Linked DNA regions of Homo sapiens: region 2 is linked to region 1. The links come from fine-mapping of genetic effects on gene expression. Tissue or cell type: whole blood. Region 1 holds a variant in brackets; the other region holds the start of a gene. All regions are shown on one strand. Distances are from middle to middle.

Evidence for each region. PIP is the estimated chance that this variant, and not a neighbour inherited with it, causes the effect.
Region 2: DELE1 starts here. The variant in region 1 is fine-mapped to the expression of DELE1 in whole blood (TOPMed, PIP above 0.99).

The regions. Positions count from the first base shown.
Region 1 is chr5:141,943,970-141,952,073 of GRCh38, forward strand. It overlaps PCDH12 (protocadherin 12), which reads right to left. Exons shown (of 4, transcript NM_016580.4): 2 at 7,524-7,621; 3 at 5,463-5,614; 4 at 1-1,836. The coding sequence ends at 1,412. It also overlaps a transcript of RNF14 not described here. Among named protein-coding and RNA genes, the nearest start is that of PCDH12, 10 kb to the right of the region's middle. The variant A/G (reference allele first, on the strand shown) is at 3,463.
Region 2 is chr5:141,919,289-141,927,392 of GRCh38, forward strand. It overlaps DELE1 (DAP3 binding cell death enhancer 1), which reads left to right and starts at 4,583. Exons shown (of 12, transcript NM_014773.5): 1 at 4,583-4,684; 2 at 5,293-5,407; 3 at 6,122-6,239. The coding sequence starts at 4,654. RefSeq lists an enhancer at 4,464-4,977.

The sequences.
Region 1 (8,104 bases):
AACATGAGCACTGAGCTCCAAGAAAGGACAAAAAGAGGAGCAGATAGAGGAACTTTTGCCTGCAGTGTCCAGGAGAGACCCACACTATTTAGAAGCTAGCTGATTGGCTGCTCGGAAATTTCCAAGAAAATTATAAAGCTGAACCTTGGGAAAATATCTGCTGTTTCTTCCCTCCCCCATCCCCTGGAAGGCTGGCTGCTGTCAGTGCCGATTTCATAGACCCAGTTCACACAGCGTCCTCTGGGATTCACAAGCCTGAACCTGCAATGACAGAGGAAGGTTTACCCGCAAATGGGGTTGGGAAAGATGACATCCGCACTTGAAGAGCTACTTGTTGGGAAAGAACGGGTCTGCATCAGTTCAGATCCAAGTTCCTTTTGCCTTGTGCTTGGGAATGTAGAGAGGTGCGGGCCTGGATGGCTTTGGAAATGTTCCTTTCAACAGTGTTTCCCGAGGGAGCTCGAGCAAGTTCACTGCTGCCAACAGCTCACCTCCAGGGCCTTCCCTTCTCCTGTCTTTGGTTGGCAGGCTGGTGTCAAGGTTGAAGGCATGGGTTTTGGTGTTGGCCCAGCCTGGGTCCAAATCCTGGCTCTGGCTCTACTCCCTGCTTGATCTTGGGAAAGCCACTTGACCTCTCCAAGCCCCATATCCGTGTCTGTGAAATGGGGTTAATAATACCTCCCTCCCAGGATTGTTGGAAAATCAAATTAAATCCTATTGTAAAGCCTGGTGCCTGGCTCATGTAAATGCTTTATAAATAGTTGTGCTTTCTTAGCTCTAATTTTGCAGCTGAGAAGCAGATTAGTTGGTAACATAGTGATAGGGGAACAGGGGTAAGAGCACACATGTCTGCTATTTGTGTACCTGTTACTGTGTACCAAGGTGCCCCACTCCTGTCCAGGCCCAGTGTGACGGTCTTGCCAGGGATTGGATGACAAATAAACCCCACTCTATTACTCTTCCCTTCTCCCTCTTGACAGGTGCAAACAGGAGAATGAATCACTGCTTTTCCTTTATTGATAGGTCAGAGAGCATTTCCTGGCACCCCCAGGGTACAGCCCCCTGACTCCTGCTACCCAAGAAGGCCACCCTTTCCTGCCTGTGATACTCCGTGGCATCTGTTCTGCCAGAGGACTGACCCTTTGTGCTCCACATATGTTTTGCCAGGAAACACTTATCTCAGCCACAAACCGTCCCTGTCCTCCAAAAGACTCAGAGCTGCTTACAAGGGGCTGCTTTGGTCAGTCAGCTGTTAGTCCTGGGGCTCTTGCCTCCTCTGTGGGGGTAGCATCAGTCACCCTAAAGTTCTCAGGCCGCCGCTAGCTAGTGAGTTACAAGATTTTAGAAACCAGCTCTTGTCCACAGATCCTCAGGCCCCTGGTTCTTGGATCCAGAGGCGTCTGAGGTATGTTCACAGGCACCTGCTGCTGCTGCTGCTGCCTCTGCTCTTGCCCTCAGTCCCCGTCTTTCCACCTGGGTCCCCTTGCACTTTCATGCCTGAGGCTGCACTGGTGGCCAAGTCTAAACTGAGGGTCCTCCCGCAGACCGAGAGCCGCCGCAGCGCCTCGGAGGCGGCCTCCACGGGCATGCTGGAGCGCTGTTCCAGCAGCATCTCCAGCAGTGAGCTCATCTCCGAGACAAAGGTGCTGGCCAGCCTCGTGCCTGTTGGGCTCAGCTCTGGTGCCTCTGCCTTGCCGAACGTCTGGAAGGTCCTTGGCTCCTCCGTGGCTGCAGCATCCGGGGAGATCACATTGTCACGGTAGTTGGTGGTGAGGGGCAAAGAGAGTCTCGCCATCCAGGCCGGGTCAGGGGCGCTCAGCCGGTCCAGGGCCAGACCTGTGGGGGAAGGAGGGGACACAGTGAGGGCCAGGCTCCGGGAAGGGCCAGGCGGGTGAGGGTGGGGCAATGAGCAGGGCAAGGGCAGTGGACAAAGGAGGGAAGGGAAATGGCAGGGGACAGACAGAGTGGCCAGACGGGGACAGGAAGGAAGAGGCCCTGACAGGGAAGCTCCCTGGGTAGGAAAGCAGTCGACTGACACACCCGGGCGAACCAAGTGGGGAAGCAGCAGGAGGAGGAGAAGGCCTAGAAGTAGAAATTTGCCGATTTCTGAAGAATTTCCCAATCTGGGCGTGTGTTTCCAGTCTCAGTGTCTTCTATATTTCATCCAGGATTTTTACCCCTCAGGGCGCCTTCTCCCCTCAGGGCTCCACTAGCTGAGGATGGAGGGAAAATCCCTTTTCTTTGCCAAGGCTGGAGTTCCTGACTTAGCGCTGCCTTTTTTGGTTCCCATCCATAATAATAGGGACCACATATTAGGTACTTACGTGATGAGCAATTTACATAATTATTTCATTTAACTTCACAAACCTTTGAGGTCAAGAGTATTATTCCCATTTGATGGATGAGGAAACTGAAGCTGAAAGAAGTTAAGTCACACATCTGCTAGGCAACCAAACCTCAATTTGATGCCAGGTCTGATGACTTTGAAGCCTATGATGGCACCACCCTACCCTCTCTCTGAAGAGCTGGCCCTTCCTCCCCCTGGATACTCCAGGTGCCCAGCTGGGGCCTCTGGAATTCCCAGGCTACCTAAGGTCTGCACTGTTACCACCTGGCCCCAGATCCTCAAATCCTCCTCAACATCATCTCTCAAGCTGCTGGAACCCTGGCCTAGAGTCAGGCTGGGGAGGGGCTGCCTGTCCAAGGGCTGTCCCAGGAGAGGGACTGGGGTAGTGGCGGTGGCAAGTCAGCCTGGTGGCTGGGAATTCAAAAAACTGGCCCCTACATTTGCAATGCCACAGTCACCCTTCTTTTCCCATCCCTTTAACAGAAAATCCTGTTTCAAGAAACCAGTCCCAGGCCTGATGGTAGAGACCAAGCCAGAGGAAAGAAATTATAAGTCTTGGAGTTAAGAAACAGTGTCTTAAAAAAATTAAAAAAAAAAAAAAAAGCACAACATCTACTTAACATTTATCTAATGTTTGCCTAAGGTGAGTTACTTTAAAATCTGCGCACAGAATGAAAGACTGGAAGGAGATATGTCAAAATGTTAACTGAAATTACCTCTGGGCAGAAGCAATCCATTCTCTTTTTGTTTATCTATGTTTTTCTATATTAACCAAATATTACTTATGTAATTTGAACAAGTTATTCCGAAGTATGTGTAGTCATTTATTGTACTGATAAATGAATCTCTGCCCTGCATTCTGGACTGTGCAGCTTGTGAGACACTGTTGGGCTCCTGCCCTACTGGATCCTTGGGTTTAGCCCCATGCCTGGGACTTAGTGAATGTTTGTTGAATGATTGAATGAACATAAATATTAACCTTCAACATTTGGGAAATGCAAACCTTAGTTCCTTGAGACTCTGAGGCTATAAGGTTGGATGGAACTCTTGGTGTTATAGAATCAGGCCTTTCCTTTTACATGGGTCAGAGAGCTTCAGAAGGAGTGAAGCTTGGA[A/G]TGAGAAAATCACTGGGGCGTATGAGAACAGCTGAAAAGTGATGCTGAATTCACCCAGCATCACCCACCAGTTCTAGCTGCAGGTGGGCACTGGGCCAACCTGGGTTTGATTTCCCAGCTTTGCAGCTTAGGGGCAGTGTGTGTGACCTTGGGAAAATGGCTTAACCTCTCTAAGCTCCCGTTTCCTCTTAGGAAGTGGTGAGACAGTAGTACGTATCTTGTGGAGTTGTTGTGAGGTTCAGTGAGTTCATGCAACCAGGAAAACATTATCATGGTCGCATTCTCAAGTGGGGCAATCTGAATCCGAAGCAGCAAATCTGAAGCAATCTGAAGCAGATCTGAAGCAGCAAGATCCCAGTCTCCCCATGGCAGTCCAGCCTGTGAGCAGCAAAGGCTTTTCTGCCCCTCCTCTTTCCTTACCCCCAACTCCTTACAGTGCCCCTGTGTTCAGTACCCTTTGTGCTGTGGGCAAGCAGGACCGTGTGGGAACTGACCCCACAGGTTCCAGCCAGAGCTGACCAATAGAGATAGAATCCAAAGCTATATCCCCCAGCCATACATAGCCAGTGAGCACTTGAAATGTGGCTGGTATGGCAGAACTGAATATTTTATTTTATTTAATTTTAATTCACTTAAATTTAAATAGCCACTTGTCGCTAGTGACTACCTCATTGAACAACACAGCTCTAAAATTTACAGCCACACTGCCTGTGTTAATAACCATCCACGAGCTGCACAACCTTGGGCAAATTATGAAACACCCCTGACCCTCACATTTTTCCTTTATGAAATGGGGATAATGAATAGCCCCTATCTCATAAGATTTTCTCATGAGGTACTTAGAACAGGGCCTAGCACATAGAAAGTGCCCAATAAACATTAGCAATATTTTTTAACCAAGGAAAGAGAAGTCCCTGCCATACCTTCAGTGTGTCTGCAGCCAGATGGAGCACATGAGAAACAGTGTTAACTACATAGATAGAAAACCACAGCACAGGGATGGTCTGCCGTGGGGTGTGTTACCAAAGGAGGCTGACCAATGTCCACAGCAGGGGCGGGGGGCGCTAGCAGATTCTTGAATTCAAGTTCACATTATGTATTTATTGTCAAAGCTAATTATTTCTCTGCAAAAAAATCTTTTTGTTTTCATTGCAATTGTTAGCATATTAAAGAGTTGACCTGGTTCCCAGGGTGAAAGGGTATTGAAACACACCAAACGCCAATGAGTGGTAAGAAGTCCATAGAGGACAGGCTGGCTCAGGGTTTGGCTCCCCTTCAATCACTGGTGAGCTGGGTGACTCTGGGAAGGCTACTTGATTTTTTTGAGCCTCGGTTTGCTCATCTGTAAATTCGAGGTAATAATTATCTACTTGAGGGGATTGGTTGGAGGCTTAAATGAGATCATGTACATAAGATGCTTCCCCAGTGCCTGGCATGTTCACTATTTTTACAATGATTTTTAAAATGAATAATCAACGTAGGCCAGGTGCCTACTTTGGCTTTGATTACAGGTGGCTCATGCCTCTAATGCCAGCACTTTGGGAGGCTGAGGTGGGTGGATTGCTTGAGCCCAGGAGTTGGAGACCAGCCTGGGCAACAGGTGAATCCCTGTCCCTACAAAAAAAAAAAAAAATCAAAAATTAGCGGGATGTGGTGGTGGTGCTCACCTGTAGTCCCAGCTACTTGGGAGGCTAAGGTGGGAGGATCACCTGAGCCCAGGAGGTCAATGCTGCAGTGAGCTGTGATCATGCTGTGATCATGCCACTGTACTCCAGCCTGGGTGACAGAGCAAGACCCTGTCTAAAAAAAAAAAAAATCAAAGTAGAACCTGGTCTTTAAAATACTTTCTGAGGCTGCAAGGGTGCAAGGGAAGTTAAATGTTGCTGATGTTCCTCCACAGAAACAGAATGGCTTTTCCCTGCAGTGGATTGGAGCAGAACTCTGAAGCTTGGACACCATGGGGCAGAAGCAGGGTCAAGGTAACTCCAGGGGGTCCCTACCTGTGCTGGGGTCCAGCAGACTTGACAGCTCTTCTTCTAGCAGTTGCTTCACAGAGAGGTCCTCTTCAGGATCCAAAGGCCCTTCCTCCTGTTCTGGGTCTGTCTGGCCTCCAGCCCTTGCACTTGGGCCATCTGTGTCTGGGATTGCACTCCTGCAAAAGAAACCAACCAGTCCATGGGTAGGGACATTCCCATATAGATTCATTCATTCATGCCCATTCATGTTTGCATTCATTTACCCATATAGGGAACTGGATACACAGCCTGGCCTCTAGAGTCAGACCAACCTGGATCATGTGATTCCCGCCCTCCTCTTACTCTGTTTCCTCATTTGTAAAATGAGAGTAATAAATAACACCCACCTCACAGGGTGTTGTGAGGGTAAAATGAGACGTTGTAGGTAGAGGGGCCTACCACAGAGCCTGGCACATTGTAAGCACTCAGCAGACAGAAGTGAAGATGAGTTCATTGATATCATTCTCGTTGCCCCTCCCATGTCTAGGTATTGCCTGGCACACAGGAGGAGTTTAGTAAACCTCAGTGGAGCCAGTGCAGCCGTCCATCCGTCCGTAGGAGAAGGCTGGGATTTTTGCCTGTCTCATTGCCTGCTCCCTTACTGATGCTCAGAACAGGGCGTGGCACACAGTGGGTGCTGAATGAGTGACTGAACATTCCTTCCTCCCTACTTTAGGCCAAATCCTAGGCCAGAAGAGCAGACCTATGGAGGGTGCAGCCGGAGTGAGGCAGCCTAAAGCTGCTCAGAATCTGCTACCTGCACCCCAGTCTCCTGCTGTCTCCATCCTGGTCCCTCTCTCCCATAGACACTTGGGGACAGGCCTGGACCCTCATCCCAGCAGGTGGGAAGGCTACCTGAGGGGTTTTAAGGCGTAGGAGTCCTTCTGTTTGTTTGGTTTTGTTCCCCTGTAGCCATTTCTGCTGCTGTGAAGAAATGAGCAGGGAGGTGGCAAGTGTGTGGGTGATAATGACAACTAATGTTTTTGAGCAGTGAGTCTGAGTCAGGCCTTATGCGATGCAAGGTCCATGCACCGTCTTATTCAAACCTTCCACACCTGTAAGGGGTTCTCTTTAATCAACCCATTGTACAAATGAGAAAACCAAGACTTGTGAAGATTTTGCAGGTTGCCCAAGGTCCCCATAGATTAAGAGATAAAGCAAGACTTCAAATCCAGGCCAGTGTGACCCTGGAGTGTGTGGACTCACCCCTGCAGTACACTACCTCTCACCATCCTTGTAAAAAGAAGCTGTAAGTTGTCAGGGCAAGAGCACTGATGCAGGAGTCAGGAACTCTGAGAGCTGGTCCCAGCTTTGCCACTCACTTGTTACATGACCTTTAGCAAAATTGCTTCAAGGGGAAAGGAGTTAGCATTGTGTGTGCACCTACTATGTGTCAGTTGCTGGGCTATGGGCTTAGAATACAATTGATTATGAAATCCTCACCCCATTACCACAAGGGAAATGGGATGGGTTCTGTTTTACAGATGGGGAAACCAAGGTCCTGAGAGATTATCTCACTTGCTCAAGTTTACATAGCTGGTTTGAATCAAGCTACTCAGAGCCTCAGTTTCTCCATCCGTAACAAGAAGTTGGATTTGATGTTCTCTTAAGGTGTCTTCAATTCTAGGATTGCCCAAAGGGACACGCCCACACAGCCATGTCTTTAGTGGGGAGCCTTCATATTATGTTTATGGGTCAAGAGAAAGAGAGGTGACAGTTACAGATATAAAGGCAATTTACAGCACCTCTGTAATTGGGACAAATACAGTCTCAGGGATGAGGTCATTTCCTTGGTGACTACTGTATTGATGGTATTTATCAATACAGCTAGTTAGTCCTACAGGACTTCTAGGTCCTGTAAATACTATCAATACAGTCACCTCACGACCAAAACTCCCAGGGTGGGAGGATGGATGCTGTCTGCTGCACCCTCCCAGGGGACCGGTGTCTGACTTGTGCTCACCCTTCCTCACTCACAGAGGCTGCAGTGATGAGGGGCGGCCAGTAGGGGCCTTGAGATGCCTGTGGGGGCTACGTGCTGCTTACCTGCTGCCTCCTGGCTTGGCCAAGTACTTATTTCCTCGGTGGTTTGGTTTGGGCTGGAATTGGCCCTGATGCAGCAAGGACAGCAGCTGGGAGATTTGCTACAAGACAGGAAAAATCTGTTGACTCCACACAATTCCGACTCAGCACACTTCCTCGCCGGATGTTTCCCTCAATGCCGGTGCTTTCTTTTTATAGTCTTTCCTCTGGCTTCAGATGTTTGTGTGATCAGATGGGGGATGGTGCCCAGTGACAGAGACAGGGACCTGGGCGGGCAGGTCCCCTGCTCTGTCATGTCACCCCAGGACCTGAGTGTCTGAAGGAGAGCAAGAGGACCCTCTGGGCCTGTCCCCTCATACTCATTCCTCCGAGTGTCCTGCACCTGGTGGACTCTGAGAGATGGGGTGAAAAAGGCATTTCCTGACCATCAATTTGTTGTTACTTTGATGAAGATTATCTTAAAGAGTTATGTTCCCCTTTAGCAGTATTTGGACATTCGGCCAATTTTTGTTGACCAGATGTAAGACTATGTTGTAGAGAAGGCAAAATGGTGTCATTGAATTATTCATTTATTCATCTTTTCA
Region 2 (8,104 bases), 25 kb before region 1:
AGCTTTCTCAGGGCTGAAGGTGAGGTCACTGGCCTAGAAGGCACAGGGTGAAAATGAGGGCTTGACCCCCACTAATACAGCAGCCAATAGCCTTTCTTGGATCCCTCTGGCCTGGTCACTCCCTTGCCAAAACCCTTCCTAGATGTCTCGTGCCTTCAGGACAGAGTCCAAATGTTTTACGGGCTTACAAGGCGTTATGACCTTGCGCTATTTACCTCTCCAGACTAAAGGCCTATCACCACCCCATCGCCATGACTCCATGCCTCCCTCCCGGCTCCAGCTACAGTGATCTTAAACTGTGCTTTCTTTGCCTTTCTGGAACTTTGTATCAGTCAGCTGTGTCCCCTGCCTGAACTGGGTTTCTTTTCCTCTTCTTCACCTGGTTAGTTTCCAGGCCTCATCATTCAGGTTAATTTAGCATCACTGCTTCCAGGAAGTCTTCCTGACTTCCATGCCTAGGTTATGGGCCTTCCCTGGGTGTTCCCATAGCACTCTGTACTTTCTTCACAACAGCACTTGCTTGTCTCCAAAGTCTACTTCCCAGTATTTGTGACCTTATGTTTTCCCCTCCCACACTGATTCTGGGCTGACCCTGTGAGTTGCTTTAACCAACAGAGTGCAGAAGTGATGCTATGCCAGTTCCTGCCAGCTTCCACTTGTGTACTTTTGGAAGCTCTGAGCCACTGTGTAAGAAGTTCAGCGACACAGCTGGAGAGGTCATGTGGCGCAGAGGGGACCTGAGACTACATGGAGAAAGAGGCCCAGCCTTTCCAATGCCCTACTTGAGTCTTCATATGACTGCCATCTGACTACAACCTCATGAGAGACCCCAAGTGAGACCAGCAGAATTGCCCAGCTGAGCCCAGTCAATTTGCAGAACTGTGAGAGATAATGATTGTTTTAAGCCACTCAATTTTGGGGTGTTTGTTATGCTGCAATAAGTAACTAAAACACCACTCTGTATTTTAATTGCTTACTGACTTTGTTTGCACTCCTAGGCTATTTTCTGTGAGGGCAAGGACCACATCCATGTTTTGTTTTGTTTTGTTTTAATTTTTCCTCAAGACAGAGTCTTGCTCTGTCGCCCAGGCTGGAGTGCAATGGTGCGATCTTAGCTTACTGCAACCTCTGCCTCCTGGGTTCAAGTGATTCTTCTGCCTCAGCCTCCCAAATGGCTGGGATTACAGATGCGCACCACCACGCCTAATTTTTTGTATTTTTTTTAGTAGAGATGGGGTTTCACCATGTTGGCCAGGCTGGTCTTGAACTCCTGGCCTCGTGAACCACCCACCTCGGCCTCCCAAAGAGCTGGGATTACAGGCGTGAGGCACTGCGCCCTGCCCACATCCATGTTTTAAAATTGTTATATACTTAGCATATCCTTTAGCACTAAATAAGCTGTCATATATTTGATTAATGCAAATTAAGAATGCCTACAAAAATGAAGGCAACAAGTATCTAGAATACTCACTGTAGTGACAGTACACAAAGTACACAATGGCATGTGTAGTCATCATGAAAGGTGATTAACTGGACAGCAGGCAATAGGTTCCCAGTGTCAGTTTACCTTTGTGGAGGATTGAGTCAACTTGAGGGACTGTGTAGAGGGACTGAGCCACAATCCAAAACCACAGAGTTTGGGGTCTGGCAGTTGAGGCAGCTGCCATTCAACCAACAGCACTCCCGTGAGCTGCACTCAACAGGTGATCTGCTGTGGGCTCCAGCCACCCTCGCCATCTACCCTCACACAAGTGGTCTGATGTTTCTGTTTATGGGGACAAGAGATGCCATAATGCCATTCTATACATGGGGGCAGATGTCCTAGTCTCTCCTTCAAAACTTTTCAACTAGCTTCAAACAGGGAGGGCCCTCAATGAATGTTTGTATCTGCAATGAATACATTTCCACTCAAATCAGTAAATCCCCTGGCTGGGGTCTGGTACCCTTGGCTGTAATAATCATTAGTACAAGATGTTCTGTCAACAGGGATTGTTTGGACATATTCTTTGGGCTGACAATTTATGTCAAGCCCTATGTGGGACACGGAATAGGGAAATGCTATTCCTGTCCTGAAAGGAGAGAACTGGGAAGGCTAGAGTTACACAAATGAGATAAATACCAAGACAGCATATAATTACTGCTAAACTGTGTAGTAAGAAATTAAGTGCTATAGGAATTGGGAAAAGTAGGGAGCAGGGAGGGCTCAAACAGTTGAGGAGTCTACACTGAAGAGCTGGGATTGGGCTGAACCTTGAGAAATGACACAAACTATGGATAGTCTGAAAGGAAGGAGGGTACAAAAGACGCAGGAGGAAGAACACAGCCAAACCAGCATACTTGTTTGTTACTTTATTTTCGGGACAGCAACACAAGGAATGTGAAAGGTTGCCGTCCCAAATCCCGAAGCAAGGCTATTTCTGAATAGTTGTCCAACATTCAAACTTCTGGGCCTTTATTTATTGTTTCCTCCGCTTGCAATGCCTTTCTTCCTTCTCCACCTGGCAAGCTCTTATTCACATTTAAAGGCCCCGCTCAAATGCAACTACTTTTCTGAAGCCTTCCAAGGGATCCCACAATCCATTGTTCATGCTTCTATGGGAACCTAACCTATTACACTTGCCTGCTTACCTCCCCTACTAATATAATTAATAGCAACTTACACTTACTGGGCTTTTACTATGTGCCAGGAACTATGCTAAACATTTTTATTTATTTATTTTTTATTTTTTGAAGGGTATTCCCAAAACACCAAGTTAAACATTTTTAACATATTATTTTATTTAAACCTCACAACAATTGCATGAGGTATTTTCCCTATTTTACGGATGAAGCTCTTGAGACTTAGTGTGGTTAAGGAACCTGCACAAGATAACATACCTACGAAGTAAGCAAGCTGTGATTCCAACCCAGATTTGTGGGACTCCAAAGCCCACTACTAATCCACTGGACCGTGTTCCTGGAGGCCACAAATGCTCTTTCCTCAGCTGTCTTCTCAGATCCTAGAACGGGCTGATATATGGCTCAAAAGTTCTTTAACGGCCAGGCACGGTGGCTCAAGCCTGTAATCCCAGCACTTTGGAAGGCCAAGGCAGGAGGATCACCTGAGGTCCAGGAGTTCGAGACCAACCTGGCCAACATGGTGAAACCCTGTCTCTACTAAAAATACAAAAATTAGCAGGATGTGGTAGCAGGCGCCTGTAATCTCAGCTACTTGGGAGGCTGAGGCAAGAGAATCGCTTGAACCTGGGAGGCAGAGGTTGCAGTGAGCCGAGATCACACCATTGCACTCCAGCCTGGGCGACAGAGAATCCGTCTCAAAAGAAAAAAAAAAGTTGTCTAACATATTAATACAACTTTCAAGCCACATGCCTCGGTCTAAAAGTAGGTGCCCCCAGTACACTTTTACCCCAGGTAGCAACTTCCACTCACCTTAAAGTCACATACCTGGAGGAAGGGGATAGGGAGGAAATCTAAACATCTTATACTTGAATGTAAGCTCCGTTATTTCACGGATTCAAATGTGGTGAAAGGAACTATTTTTTTTTCCTTTTTTTTTTGAGATGGAGTCTCACTCTGTCGCCCAGGCGCGATCTCGGCTCACTGCAACCTCCCGTCTCCCGTGTTCAAGCAATTCTCCTGCCTCAGCCTCCAGAGTAGCTAGGATTACAGGCGCCCACCACCACGCGCAACTGATTTTTGTATTTTTAGTAGAGACAGGGTTTCACCATGTTGGCCAGGCTGGTCTCAAACTCCTGACCTCAGGTGATCCGCCCGCCTCGGCCTCCCAGAGTGCTGGGATTACAGGCGTGAGCCACCGGGACCAGACGGAACTATTCTTTTCCACAAAAGAACAAACACATACATAACTTTTGCCACGTCTGAAGACGAGGGTTCTAATAGGGCGCGGGTGGTGTCTCAGGTATTTTGAAAGGAGCTACCCAAGAATCTCAGCTTGTCAGGCCAGTCATTCCATTTGACCCTATCTGGCGCGTATTGGGGCCCCGACAAGGTAAGGGGTTGGCATGAAGCTGCACAGTGAGATAAAGCTGGACCGGAGCTAGAACCCAGAATCAAAGCCTTGCCCTGTGCGGTTTCTCATCGCCTACGCAGTCGGGCCCTGGCCTGGCATCTCCAGGCAGGTGGCCTTGGACGGAAGCCCGGCCTACTGGCTTCATTTGTGGGACCCCGGGGGTCCTCTCCTCCGCCCATGGAGCCTGGTTACTCCCACTTCCTCAAGCCTAGGGCCTGGAGAAGCCTTTCCTGGTTCGCGGCCTCACGGTCTGCAAGGTCCTCTTACTTCCCTGAAGCCGCTCCAGCCCCACTTCCCGAAGGTCCCGCTTCCGGGTGGCTCGCTTCGCCACCTGCGGTCCCCTGCCTCGGCTTGGGAACGCCAAGGACATCCCCCACGGAAGCCTGGGCCCACATCCCCATGCCCTTGCCGCACGTCACCGCCCCGCTGGCCCCGAATACGCCTCCGCCCTGCACTTCCTCTCTGCAGCGCCGTCTTTCCGGCCGGGCTCCCTTCTAATTGGCCAGCTCAGAGCTTCCTCGGGTACTCGGCCACTCGGGGCATCGCGGCGGCCTTTCTAGCCGCTGTCCCAAGGGTTGGTCTCGCGCTTTCGGCTGCGAGCTCTCTGTGGTGCTGGCAGCGACATGTGGCGCCTCCCGGGACTCCTGGGCCGAGGTAAGGGACGTCCAAGCAACCAGCGTCACTCTGGGCCGCAAAGACCGAACTGGAGTGGGGGCGGGCCCGAGGAAACAGCCGAAGCGATCGTGGGCCGGGTTAGAGCCAAGGAAGGCGGGGCTTGAAAGAGGGCGGGGAAGTCAGGGGCTGCTGGAATTTGAGATGTGGATGGGCCTAGCTAGAAGAGGGTGGAGTCCAAGAAGTTGGTAGGACTGTTGGGAGGGGGAGGAGTCCAATGGCAGGAGATGGTGGACTGAATGAATGAAAGAGGATTAGGGGCCAATGGAGTAGGCATAGCCAGTGAAGAGAGGAGAGGTTTAGAGTCAAAGAGCCCCAAACATTAGTGAGAGTATATGTATGAACGTTTGGTCATCTTAGAACAGTGGTTGGCATCCACAGGAGACCAGCAGAATCACATGGGCGCTTTTAAAAAACGTGGATGCTCTACCCTGAGAAATCTTAGTTTATTGGTTCTGGGGTACTACCCTAGAATCTGTAGTAGATAAAAGATTCCCATGTGTATCCATGTTTAAGAACCTCTGCTGAGGCAGATGACAGTGATTCCTGGGTTCTTGTTGAGGTGCCTGAGTTTTGGTTGTTCTGTACAGCTCTTCCCCGTACACTGGGACCTAGCCTCTGGAGGGTGACTCCTAAGTCCACCAGCCCAGATGGGCCTCAGACTACCTCCTCCACTTTGCTGGTTCCTGTGCCTAACCTCGACAGGTAAGATACTGCCATTTTACCACTCATTTCCTCCCCTAGTCACCCTTTTTTTTTATTTTTTTTTTTTTGTTGTTTTTTGAGATGGAGTCTCATTCTGTCGCCCAGGCTGGAGTGCAGTGGGGCAATCTCAGCTCACTGCAACCTCCGCCTCCCAGGTTCAAGCAGTTCTCTGCCTCAGCCTCCCGAGTAGCTGGGATTACAGGCACCCGTCACCACACCCTGCTAATTTTTATTTTATTTTATTTTTTTTGAGACAGAGTCTCGCTCTGTCGCCCAGGCTGGAGTGCAGTGGCGCGATCTTGGCTCACTGAAACCTCCGCCTCCTGGGTTCAAGCGATTCTGCTGCCTCAGCCTCCCAAGTAGCTGGGATTTCAGGCATGCACCATCACGCCTGGCTAATTTTTTTTGTATTTTTAGTAGAGACGGGGTTTCACCATGTTAGCCAGGATGGTCTTGATCTCCTGATCTCATGATCTGCCCGCCTCAGCCTCCCAAAGTGCTGGGATTACAGTGTGAGCCACTGTACCCAGCCAATTTTTATATTTTTAGTAGAGATGGGGTTTCACCATCTTGACCAGGCTGGTCTTGAACTCCTGACCTCGTGATCCACCCACCTCAGCCTCCCAAATTGTTGGGATTACAGGTGTGAGCCACCGCACCCAGTCCCTGGTCTCCCTTTGCCCCTACTTGATAGCCTCTTATTTCATCATCTAGGTCAGGTCCCCATGGCCCAGGCACGAGCGGGGGTCCAAGGTCCCATGGATGGAAGGATGCCTTCCAATGGATGTCTTCCCGTGTCTCCCCGAACACCCTATGGGATGCCATATCTTGGGTAAGGCTTCCCCAGCCTGGTCCTTGACCTTCAGTGTAGATGAGAATGATCCTTCATGGGTATACAGCCGAACCTGGAACAAGGGCTAGGGAATCACTGTGTCCATTTAACAAGTAACCCATGGTATTGGAGCATATTCAAGGAGATATTGCCACTTTCCACACCCCCGCCATGTATGTTTTCCTCATTTAATTCAGTAAACATTTATGTAACACCTTGTCTGGGCCAGGCATTTTTGCTAGTCACTACGGACATAGCAGAGAACAAGATAGATACATTCTTGCCTTCATGGATCTTACAATAAATAATAATACATTGCATCTTTTTTTTATTATTCATTTTTTTTATTTTTAAATTATTATTTTTTTCTGAGACAGAGTCTTTCTCTGTCGCCCAGGCTGAAGTGCAGCGGCATGATCTTGGCTCACTGCAACCTCCGTCTCCCGGGTTCAAGCAATTCTCCTGCTTCAGCCTCCCAAGTAGCTGGGATTACAGGCACGTGCCACCACGCCTGGATAATTTTTGTGTTTTTAGTAGAGACGGGGTTTCACCATTTTGGCCAGGATGGTCTCGAACTCCTGATCTCGTGACCCACCCACCGCGGCCTCCCAAAGTGCTGGGATTACAGCTGTGAGCCACCGCGCCCGGCCTTATAGCATTATTTATTAATGTAAAGTATTATACATGCATTATCTTGTGTAATCCTTACAAAAATCTTACAAGGGAAATATCACCTTCATTTTACAGCTGAGGAATCTCAGGCTCTGAAATATTAGGTAACATGCGTAGGGTCTCATACCTGTTAAGTGGAGGAGCCAGATTTAACTCTGGAGTTCATGTTCTACTGCTTGGTTGCTGCATCAAATACAGAGCCTAGCCCGTAATAGTTGCTCAAAAATATTTGTTGAACCTGATCTATAAGGTCAGATTCTTACTAGTGAACACTAGGTCTCATAGGGCAGAGTCTTCGCTTTTCAGGCAATGTTCCAGGTGGAAGTTCTGCTTATAAGATCTTCTGAATGAAGTTGACACACACATCACTCTCATGTTTGTCACAGCTCATCCCTGCTGCTTTCGTGCTGTGTACTTTGGACAAATGACTTGACCTGTGTGACCCTTGGCTTTCTCATCTGTAAATTGGTGTCATCAGCAGAGCTGAGCCTGGGATGTCTCCATGACAGGGTTACCCCTCTATGGGGAGCTGTGGACTAAGGCCATATCATACCCTGAAGAGAGGAGCATTTTCCCATGTTGCCAAAGAAGATCTGAGCCCTAGGGCTGTCCCATAGTGAGAAGTAGGAAGTGGGCCTGGATTCCAGAAGTCCCAATGCCATCCCTGTGCTCTGTCACTACTGCTCATATGAAAGGGTCTGCACGCAAGCTGTCCTCAGTACCATGGATACTTGTCTCTGTTCTTCACAATGCTGGTGCCTTTTCTTCTGGCCTTAGCCCACACGTCACCCCCACAGACAGGCTTTCCCTGACTCCTTGTCTTGTCAGGACCCCTTTTATGCTCTGTGTAACTCTCTGATTAGTTTCCTTCTTGGCATTTAACATCACTAGTAATTACTCTATTTCTCTCTGTAGTTGTGTTTTGTCTTTCTAAACACAAGATATAAACTTCATGAGGGCAGAAATTATGTCTGTCTTACTTGCTATTGTATGCAGTGCCTGGAGCAACAAGTAAGTATCTGGGTCAACCTGTGTGTTTTTTTTAGGCTGGAGCGCAGTGGTGCGATCCTGGCTCACTGCAACCTCTGCCTCCCAGGTTCAAGCAATTTTCATGCCTCAACCTCCGAGTAGTTGGGATTACAGGTGTGCCCCACCACGCCTGGCTAATTCTTGTATTTTTAGTGGAACAGAGT